Linked DNA regions of Homo sapiens. The protein of the gene in region 3 purifies or fractionates together with the protein of the main gene of each other region. This does not show direct contact. Each region holds a gene or a part of one and is shown on either strand. Other genes may lie near its edges. The genes, in order: TMEM248, ZDHHC9 and TMEM184C.

Evidence for each region.
Region 1: the proteins of TMEM184C (region 3) and TMEM248 fractionate together in Homo sapiens (co-fractionation; one large-scale study listed by BioGRID). This does not show direct contact.
Region 2: the proteins of TMEM184C (region 3) and ZDHHC9 fractionate together in Homo sapiens (co-fractionation; one large-scale study listed by BioGRID). This does not show direct contact.

Annotation. Positions count from the first base shown.
Region 1 is NC_000007.14:66,941,671-66,945,324, reverse strand, and holds part of TMEM248 (transmembrane protein 248), read right to left. Parts: intron 3,478-3,654; coding exon of another isoform or gene 3,460-3,477; coding exon 3,301-3,459; intron 350-3,300; coding exon 64-349; intron 1-63.
Region 2 is NC_000023.11:129,812,887-129,816,540, reverse strand, and holds part of ZDHHC9 (palmitoyltransferase ZDHHC9), read left to right. Parts: intron 1-1,745; coding exon 1,746-1,883; intron 1,884-2,815; coding exon 2,816-2,864; coding exon of another isoform or gene 2,865-2,880; intron 2,881-3,626; coding exon of another isoform or gene 3,627-3,644; exon of another isoform or gene 3,645-3,654. UniProt on the Homo sapiens protein: Palmitoyltransferase that catalyzes the addition of palmitate onto various protein substrates, such as ADRB2, GSDMD, HRAS, NRAS and CGAS. The ZDHHC9-GOLGA7 complex is a palmitoyltransferase specific for HRAS and NRAS.
Region 3 is NC_000004.12:147,627,367-147,631,020, forward strand, and holds part of TMEM184C (transmembrane protein 184C), read left to right. Parts: intron 1-994; coding exon 995-1,069; intron 1,070-2,232; coding exon 2,233-2,326; intron 2,327-3,654. UniProt on the Homo sapiens protein: Possible tumor suppressor which may play a role in cell growth.

The DNA.
Region 1 (3,654 bases), on a different chromosome or scaffold from region 3:
TGCATCCTCTTTTTGTAACAGTGGTTGCCTAAGGAGCCTGAGTGGAGAGTGGCTACTGCATACCTGAAAGTCCAATCTGATGCCCTAAGATGGTTGAGTACAGATGGGTGACGTTGCGGGAATACCCTCCGAAGGGTTTCAGTGGGTCCAGGGTTAGGGTGATTGAGACTGAGATATTCACCGGGCCCGAGTCCTCCAGGGCCTGGGGGGACTGGGTGGAAGCTCGGGCCTGCCCGCTGGTCATTGTACTTTCCGGAGTTGTGGTGTCGTTTGTGAGATGCTTGAGGGTTTCATTCTCTGATACACACAAGTCCAAATCATTGAACCGTAGCAGAAAAGTATTCCAATCCTTTGGGAAAGTGAAAGAAAGAGAAATGGGTGTTAAGCAGCGCCTGTCTCCCACTGCGGGAATACAGGTAAGACCCCAGTGTGGCACCGCAGCACATCAGCAAACTACAATTCAGAGCTGATCATTTAAGATCATGACAACTCGGCCACCACCCTCTTCACAGGCAGCATGATGTGGCTTTCCTAATCACTTTTATATTCACAACCTAAAATATGAACTCTTCACTGGCACAAGATACTCAATAAACTGTGAAATCAAATCAATTTATTCAAGAAAATCTTTTTAAAAAATCCAGCATATTACACTTAGAGAAAATGATCTAGCCTCAGAACCAAACTTGAAAAGAACGCTTGAAGAAAAGCATTAATCCAAACTCATTTTGCAACTACAATTCTTTTCTTTAAATAAAGTCACCTTAAAATAATGTCCCAAAAGGTCAATTCCATACACCTTGCTCTCTTTCTCTAGAACACAAAACAGCAGTGAATACTAATACTCATTTGGGACACTGCCCCCCTTCTTATGGACTTTTGATGACACCTTAGAGCAGCAACGATTTCAAAAAGGAAGGGGCCAGGTACGGTGGCTCGCACCTGTAATCCCAGCACTTTGGGAGGCCAAGGTGGGTGGATCATTTGAGGTCAGGAGTTCGAGACCAGCCTGAGCAACATGGTGAAACCACGTCTCTACTAAAAATACAATAATTAGCCGGGTGTGGTGGTGTGTGCCTGTAATCCCACCTACTTGGGAGGCTGAGGCAGGAGAATCGCTTGAACCTGGGAGGTGGAGGTTGCAGTGAGAGGAGATCGTGCCACTGCACTCCACCCTGGGCGACACAGTGAGACTCTGTCTCAAAAAAAAAAAAAAAAAAAGCCATCTGAGGCCAGGTACGGTAGTTCACGCCTGTAATCCCAGCACTTTGGGAGGCCAAGCAGGGTGGATCACTTGAGGCCAGGAGTTCGAGACCAGCATGGATAACATGGTGAAACCTTGTCTCTACTAAAAATACAAAAATTAGCTGGACATGGTGGCGCATGCCTGTAATCCCAGCTACTTGGAAGGCTGAGGCACGAAAATCGTTTGAAGGGGGGCAGAGGCTGAAGTGAGCCAAGATCGCGCCACTGAAGTCCAGCCTCAGCCTGGGTGTCAGAGTGACACTCCACCTCAAAAAAAAAAAAAAGTCATCTGAGCAACCCCTACCCAGCCCAGTAAGTCTACCCTTACAGCATCAGTTTAACTGTATGTGACATTTAGTAAGACTGCAACTGGATCTATCAAATTACATTTTCCCTAACACCTACAAACTCAACTGACCATTCTAGTACATTAGGGTTGAAAATGAACATTCTAGTCTCAGTCCTTCATAATCCTAGACATGAAGAAACTGAGGCCCAGGGCAAATTAGGGACTCTCCAATTCTAGTTCAAGGTAAAATCAGCATTAAGTTCTGATTCACAGCCCCAAATGTTTCCCATACACCACTGCCTTTCCTACAACCTAGGATCCTCATTTGAAAACAAAAATCACGAAACTAATCATAACCAAAGTTCCGCAGCATCTCAACAATGCGTTCCTACAGAGCTGGAGTCCACGTTGAACAGCTGGCTAAAGCCAATGCCAGGCCTAATTTGGATTATTAAGGGCTAATTATCCAGGCTTCAGTGCAACCACTGGCCTTGGCCAAGTGCTCAACATGGACTCAAGCTCTGCGGGAAAGAAATGGCAGGAGGCTGTGCAGCTTTAGTTTTGAGTAGAATATTCATTTTCAGCCCTGATGTGGGGGCAGCCTGTTTTCACAACCTTTAAAGATTGAGGCAGGGTCAGAAAAGAGAGAGAATTAAGCCAGCCAGTATGTCTCTTAGTAATAAACTCTTTGAAAGGGTTACATGGTAGAAATAGCTAAAACTCGTTACTTGAACTGTGCTAGAAAGAGCTCACATGTGTAGGCGGTTCCTTTTGCCAAGATCACTTAAGATCTAGAATGCCCTAGAGCATGAGAGAAAGCTACGATCTCAATTACATGGAACACAACTCTCCTCTCCATTGCAAGGCACACTCAATGCGGCAACCACGCACTCCCAGCCCCACTCCCACCCCCACCTCCACCCACCAACAAACCCAAGAAGAAGGAAATAGAATAAGAGAAGGCACCCAAGGAATCTACTAAAAGACAGGAATTAGGCTGGATGCGGTGGCTCACACCGGTAATCCCAGCACTTGGGGAGGCCGAGATGGGTGGATCACCTGAGGTCAGGAGTTCGAGACCAGCCTGGCCAACGTGGCGAAACCCCGTCTCTACTAAAAAGACAAAAATTAGCCAGACGTGGTGGCAGGCACCTGTAATCCCAGCTACTCAGGAGGCTGAGGCAGGAGAATCGCTTGAGCCCGGGAGGTGGAAGTTGCAGTGAGCTGAGAGTACGCCACTGCACTCCAGACTAGGTGACGGAGCGAGACTCCGTCTCAAAAAACAAAAAACAAATATATTTGGAAATTAGGTCCTGTTTTTGAATTTCTTTAGGATTCCTTCTTATCTCATGAAAAAAACCATTAGTATAGCTGATAAAACTCCATGATGATATGTGGTTTTAAAATACCAAATGTTCAGTTTTCTAAAACAGCAATGAACCCATTTGAGATGGAATATTACAGAGGTGAGGTCTCCAGCTTTTTGACACAGATCATTTTACAAATGTACTCTCCAAAGTGCATGTTTCACTGCTAAAATAGTCTAACTGAAACTGGTAGCATATTTAAATCGAACAATACCCATCTAGGTATTTCCTAACAAAGTGAGTCCTGGGGAGATGGAAAACAGAAAATTCTGAATAAATACTGATTTTTCTCACTAGGAGAGAAAGGCCAAAACCCAAGAAAGCTATATGGCAAGCCACAGGGTGTTGCCCCACTGCACAAGGACCAGCCAGCCCGGGAGAAGTCAGAGCATACTATACCTCTGCCATTTCTGGGGATTTAATCTCCTTGATTTTGAAGAAGTAGCCCAGGGTCAGGAAAGCTATGGCCATGGCGCTTACGCTGATCATGAAGACCACCAGGGGAGGCCGACTGCTGATGTACACCTTCAGGTTCTCCAGGGGGTTGATGCTGAACATTATTCTGATCAGCTCCACCTGAAAGAAATGAATCAGAAGCTTCAAGGACTGACTTGCCAACAGGAAAGCTATGATTCTTTTGTTTCCTTTTGAGGTGTTGGGGGGTGAGCTGGGTGGGATGGGCACTCATTACTGAATTTGAGAAATGTCGGATCATAACTTCATTCAAAAGACTAGAAGGAAGAAACACTAAAT
Region 2 (3,654 bases), on a different chromosome or scaffold from region 3:
CTATTTCCTTTTTGTTTGTTTTTTGTTTTTGTTTTATGTGCAGTCGACTCTTGAACAATGCAGTTTTGTACTGCATGGGCCCACTTAATAATGAGGGTTTTTTTTTTCCAATAAATACAGTATCAGTGTGTTCCTCATCTGCAACCAAATGCGGATCCAAAATACAGTCGTCCCTAAGTATCCTTGGGGGATTGGTTTCAGGGATTGCCCTTGAATACCAAACCCCATGCATTCTCAAGTCCTGCAGTGGCCCTGTGGAACCCATGGATATGAAGTCAGCCCTCTGTATCCGTCTCCAGGAGTTTCATATTTTGTGAATACCGTATTTTTGATCTAGGTTTAGTTGTGGATGCAGAACCTGTTGATACGGAGGGCCAACTGTATTTATTGAAACAAATCCATGTACAAGTGGACGCACGCAGTTCTAACCTGAGTTGTTCAAGGTTCAAATGTACAGTATTCACAAGATGCAAAACCTGTGTACATGAGGGGCAACTTTTCTTATCCGTGGGTTCTGCAGGGCTGCTGAATGACTTGAGTATGGGTGGATTTTGGTGTCTGCCTGTAATGCTTACCACAATCAAATGAACATATTCATCACCACACATAGTTACCATTGTGTGTGCATGTGTGTGTGTGGTGAGGACACTTAAGATTACTCTCTTAGCAAATTTCAAGTAACTTTTGACTATTATTTTCTTGACGAAGTATTTGTATTTTCCTATTGATTTCTAAGAACTTTTCATATAGTCAGGTACAACTTTACATAGATTGCCATTGTTTTTTTTTCTTTAGTCTTCTTTATGGTAATTTTAACATACACAAAATATTTTTTAAATTTTTAATTTTTTGTTGGTATATAGTAGGTATATATATTTATGGTGTACATGAGAAGTTTTGATACAGGCATGCAATGTGTAATAATCACATCATTGATCACCAAGGAAATGCAAATCAAAACCACAAAGTACTTTTTTAAAGTTTATGGAGTCAAATCTATTTTTCCTTGTCATCTGTTTTCTTCCAGTACTTTTATGCTTAGAAAGTCCTTCTGCATATAGAGGACAAATAAACATTTATTCTTTATAGTTATTTTATGGATTCACTTTGTTTTTACATTTAGTTCTTTAATTCATCTGGAATTTACTATGACAAGTAGTATGAAGACAAAAAAATCGATCCTTATTTTGCACCAAATAGCCAATTGTCACGTAATTGTTTATGGAATAATACTTCCTTTTACCTCTGATTTTGTAATGCTGAGTTTATTAGACAACAAAATCTTATATATTCTAAGATCTGTTTCTGGGCTCTTTCCATTCCATTGAACTATGCCATACCATTTTAAATATTGTAGTTTTACATTTTTCCTTGGCTATTTTGACCTGTTTATTCTTCTTGAACTTAGTAGGCCCACCGATTAAGATTTTATTTGGAAAAGCAGTGTCTCTGCTTTTAATGAGCTGAGTGAGGCAAATCACTTAACCTCTCCATGCCTTTGTTTCTTCATCTGTAAAGTGGGGAAAAGAGTATCTCCTTTTGCCCAAGTTCCAGGGAAATTGTGAGGATCAAATGAGATGGTTATGAAAACATTTTGAAAAAGTAAAAAAAAAAAAAAACCCTATATTTTTTACAACTGAAATAGACAATGATCCTGGAGGTCTTTGAATTAGGTATTATAGGGATGGTGGGGTTGATTTTTGTTCTGGAGGCTTTTGGCTTTGGACTCTCTCTTTCTCCCACAGAGCGCTTCGACCATCACTGCCCCTGGGTGGGGAATTGTGTTGGAAAGAGGAACTACCGCTACTTCTACCTCTTCATCCTTTCTCTCTCCCTCCTCACAATCTATGTCTTCGCCTTCAACATCGTCTATGTGGCCCTCAGTGAGTATACAGGGCAGTGTCCGTTGTTGGAGTGGGGCTGGGTGGGGGAAGAGTTAAGGGCAGCTTAGAGGGTTGTTGGGTTTCCTGGTGGTACCATTGTGAAAGGTACTTTAGGACAGGTTAGAAATGAGCACAGTTATCTGCTCTTGAGCAGGGTTGCAAACCTCAGTGCACATCAATGAGTATTAATCAGTGTGTTGGCCTTCTCTTTGGCCAACTGCTGGGCACTGGGGCCATAATTACTGGTCTGTATCCAGAGTACTGGGGCATTTCTGAGGTAATCCCAAAGGCTGGGGATGTATTTTGTCTCGGAGCATCCTCTCTTCTTCTGCCTTGTAAAACTTGCCTTGTGCTAAGGGGTAGAAAAGGGTAAGGGTTTTGCCTGAGAAATGTCTTTTTGTAGCTCATGGTCTAGTTTGGGAGATAGAAAGCACACCCACATATGTACATGTGCACAAACATACACACCCACACACACGCCAATCTAAGAGCAGATGTGATGTGGAGTTAAGGGAGTGGTCTTAAGACAGCTTTCTGGAAAGAGAAGAGTTCTGAGCTGGATTTTGAACAAGGGAGGGACACGTATTGGCAAGGAGAGAGGATTTTTCTTGGGTATTTCTGATTTCTTTTATCTGTTAATATCCCCCTAACATGTCCATAGTTGGGGGCTAGGGAAAAGGGAAGGGAGCCTGCTGCTCTTCTGCCTGCCTGTCTAGTCCAGGGCCTGGTCCTGCACTGGAAATGTGAACTCTTTAGTCATGAGACTACCAGCTAGGAGATGAGGCTCTTCACCCTTGCCCGAGTGAGAGCTTAGCTCTTGCCAGTGTGTAACACGGGAGAGGGAGGGAAGGAAGTGAGTAGGCACTAGGATAGTGTGTAGTTTTGACTGAAGTCACTAATTTTTCTCTCTACTCTTCCATCCAATTTCACAGAATCTTTGAAAATTGGCTTCTTGGAGACATTGAAAGAAACTCCTGGAACATATCCTCCGCTGGCAGTATGTCCCTGTGAAGCCTTCTTAAGCTACTTTCCAGCATGCTTTTTCCCCACAGTTCTCCCACTATCTAGTTTTTCAGATATCAGAGAGTGCCAAGGTCTAAAATAATTTAAAAAAATATAGTCTTAGTGGTAGCAACCAGAATGGAAGATGACCGGGACTAAAAGGGAGGTCTTTCCTTCACCCCCTGCTCAGGACAGTGGCTGCATTTCTGCAAAGGGGGTTCAGATGAGATTTCTATAAATCACATCCTCTTTTTTTTCCCCCACCAGTTCTTCATTTATGAATTTTCTTTTTTTGAGACAGAGTCTTGTACTGTTGCCCCAGCTCGCCTCCTGGGTTCAAATGATTCTCCTGCCTCAGCCTCCCGAGTAGCTTGGACTACAGATGCCCGCCACCACGCCCAGCTAATTTTTTGTATTTTTAATAGAGACGGGGGTTTCACCATGTTGGCCAGGCTGTTCTCGAACTCCTGACCTTGTGATCCGCCCACCTTGGCCTCCCAAAGTGCCGGGATTACATGAATTTTGTTTTTTGACAGAATTTCCATTGGCAGTGATGGCCAACATTGTTTAGCTTTGGCCCCTCCCATGCATCCCCTTCCAAGAGCCAATGATGGGTAAATAGGCACACCCTTAAATACCCTAGATACGCTAGAAATTCTTTCATAAGGGATCTATCCAGTAAGTTCAGAATTCATCTATTGTTATATATGGAAACATGGCTTTTTGTGATATACGTTCCAGGAGGTAAAGATGGTCTGACTGGTGCTCT
Region 3 (3,654 bases):
TGCAACCTCCACCTCCCATATTCAAGCAATTCTCATGCCTCAGCCTCCCAAGTAGCTGGGATTACAGGCGTGCCCGGCTAAATTTTGTTATTTTTTTTGTAGAGACAGAGTTTTGCCATGTTGGCCAGGCTGCTCTCAAGTGATCCACCTGCCTCGGCCTCCCACAGTGCTGGGATTACAGGCGTGAGGATGGCTTGAGCCCAGGAGTTTGAGACTAGCCTGGGCAACACAGTGAAACCACATCTCTACAGAAAATTTAAAAATAGCTGGGTGTGGGGGCACACACCTACAGTCCCAGCTACTCAGGAGGATCACTTGAGCCCAGGAGGTCAAGAGTAGCCTGGGCAACATAGTGAGACTCCCATGTCTATAGAAAATAAATTAGCCAGGTGTGGTGGTATGCAGATATAGTTCCAGCTACTCAGGAGGCTGAGGTGGGAGGATCACTTGAGCCCAGGAGGTCAAGAGTAGCCTGGGCAACATAGTGAGACCCCATGTCTACAGAAAATAAATTAGCCAGGTGTGGTGGTATGCAGATACAGTTCCAGCTACTCAGGAGGCTGAGGTGGGAGGATTACTTGAGCCCAGGAGGTCAAGAGTAGCCTGGGCAACATAGTGAGACCCCATGTCTACAGAAAATAAATTAGCCAGGTGTGGTGGTATGCAGATATAGTTCCAGCTACTCAGGAGGCTGAGGTGGGAGGATCACTTGAGCACAGAAGGTCAAGGCTGCAGTAAGCCATGTTCACACCACTGCACTCCACCCTGGGCAACAGAATAAGATCCTATATCTCAAAAAATAAAAAAGGTATTTAGATAATTTGTTTCCTGCCATCCACATTCTTCTGCCACTGCTATTAAGGATGACTACATTGAAAGAATTAACTGTAAATATGGTATCATTCATCAAAGTGATTTTAATTTGGAGGCTTTGGGGAAAATCTGATGCTATTTAAATGAGTAGTTGAAATTCTAAGTTCTTTTTCTTTTGCAGAGTATTGCTGTTTAGGTGCAAACTAGGTGTATTACAGTACACAGTTGTCAGACCTTTCACCACCATCGTTGCTTTGTAAGTACTCGGATTTTATATGAACTTTTTTTTTCATCCTTGTGATCTTATGTGGGAACAACTAAGTAGAAAACATAGTGTTAATGTGCTTATTTATAATGCAGGTCTAGTCTGTTGTAAAAAAAAACACTGTATAGAAACTCACTCTATTAAAATAAATAACATGACCATTTATAGGCAAAGAGTCACCACAGGGGTCTCCTAAATATTCACATCCTCTCCAGAGCTAGCTGGCCGTAAAGCACTTTGAAAAAAAAATACCTTCTTTTTCAGATACATAGCTTGACAGAAACCCTATTGCATGAAGTTAAAGTATGCTACTTTAGGTTAATTACAGTTCTATTTTCTACATAGTTAATTTAGAATATATTAGAAGTACTCTAAGAAAGAAGTCATATTTTCTTTTAATATATTCTATCAAGGCTTAGAATTGAGGTAAAATGGGGTATCATTAAGCTACCTGGCAAAACTATTCCCTAAAAATTCAAGAACATCAAATACTTTAATGCCAATAGATTACATGTTTTATCTCCTAGTTGTTACTAACATTTTGCATGCTCACAGAGGAAAAGTGGAAAGAAAGACTTGTGAAAGAATTCTTTATTCTGCCTTTGAGCTAGCAATTATTTAGCCATTTAATTATGAAGGCATGCTTTATTTCCCTGCAGCTTAGAAATTGGGTAAGATTATAACAATACTGATGGTCATACTTACTTGAGGGGATCTGGGTCTTCATAAAATTTACCTCCAAGACAATTGAGGGGAAAAAATTAACAACTACAGTTATATACACCTGCATTATATTATGTTTAACAATCAAGCTTTCCCAAAATTAGACAGCATAGTTGTTTTTTTTTAAATTTAGTACTCTTTCTAGTTAAGTGTTATGTGTCTTATTTGGGATTTCCTTCAAGTTGAAGGAATATAGTAATATTTCTAGAAAAAAATGGGTTTTTCATTTTTGAACCACCTCTAGATCCAAAGTCAAGTGATTGTCAATGGATCTCTCAAATAAACTGACTTCTAAATTCTCTGTGTCCAAAGTCAAGTGATTGTCAGTGAGATCTCAAATAAACTGACTTCTAAATTTAAGTATTGCTATTGCTGTATTTTGAAGTACGATTTTGATTTAATCAGAGATATCTCATTTTTACTATTTTTAGAATCTGTGAGCTGCTTGGTATATATGACGAAGGGAACTTTAGCTTTTCAAATGCTTGGACTTATTTGGTTATAATAAACAACATGTCACAGTTGGTAAGTAAAATGTTCACTTTTCTTAAACTGTACTAAATTCGTATCTATAACTAAATTTCTTTAGACAAAGTTTCTTCTTAGGATAAGGCTTGCTTCTTTTTAATCTTCCTATAAATTAAATCTGAAATTTAATTTATAGAAAGACTTGAAAAAAATTTAATATATATCTTAATACATATATAAAGATATAATAACATCTTTGTTTATTATTTGGCAACTTATACCCTCACATGTTGACCATGTTTGTTCATTTATTTCTGTTGCTCATTGCATAGCTGTATGAGTATGTCATAAATAAAAGCACAGTGCTACATAAAAAAAAAAATACACACACACGCCCACATATACTGAACATATTCAGAAGAGAAAATATCAAATTGGTATTTGATGGTACAGGGTTTGAATAAAAATGTGAGAATAAAATTCTCTGTTATCATATATTTGAAGTTAAAGGAAAATTGAGAATGCCAAGTTTAAAAAAATGGATGATGTTCTAGAAACTGTATGTTCCAAAGACCTATGATGTAATGTCCTATTTGATCTTACAAGCTTAAAAAAATGTGCATTTTATTTAAATTCTTTGACTAATGCTGTCAGCAAAATAATTTAGATGCAGTGGTATGCATGGTTGGTATTAGAGCTTTATAATAAAAATTAAATGTCCATGTAGCTAAAGTTTTCCCACATGTTCATCCTCTTTGGAACCAGTAATTCTGTTTCTGGGAATGTATTCTAAAGAAGTGTTCAAAAGTATGTTTGCCTAAAGTATCTTTGTATATAAAGCCCATTACTTGTAAATAACAAAAGGCTGAAAGCAATCCAAAACCCAATGTTAGGGACTAGTTGAATGCACTGTGGTCTTTCCATTGGCCAAAATATTAGGCAGTTACTAAAAATAAGCCTGATGAAACATATAGAAGTTATGTATTTTAAGTGGAAAAAACATTAGGCAATAAAATTTTATAATTAGTTCATGACAGTTATTTAAAAACTGGCTTATGTGTAAAAAGGATGATTGGACACCATGAATCACTTTATTCTTTCTTTCTTTACTGGTTTCATATTCTAAAATACTTTGAATTTGCATTTTATATGATTTTAATAGGGAATAGTGAACTTTCAGGAAAATGTTTATTGTTATTCAGCACTACACTAGGTTATTACAGATTTCTAAAAAGTTAGTAAGTCTTGTTCATTTTAAAAAATAAATCTAGCTGAACTAATACACCGCTCTCAGGAAAAATTGTTTGATTCTTTACATTCAGATTTCATAGTCACAATTTTATTGAAATTGTACTTGTTTAATGGGTTACTTTAGTTACATAGGA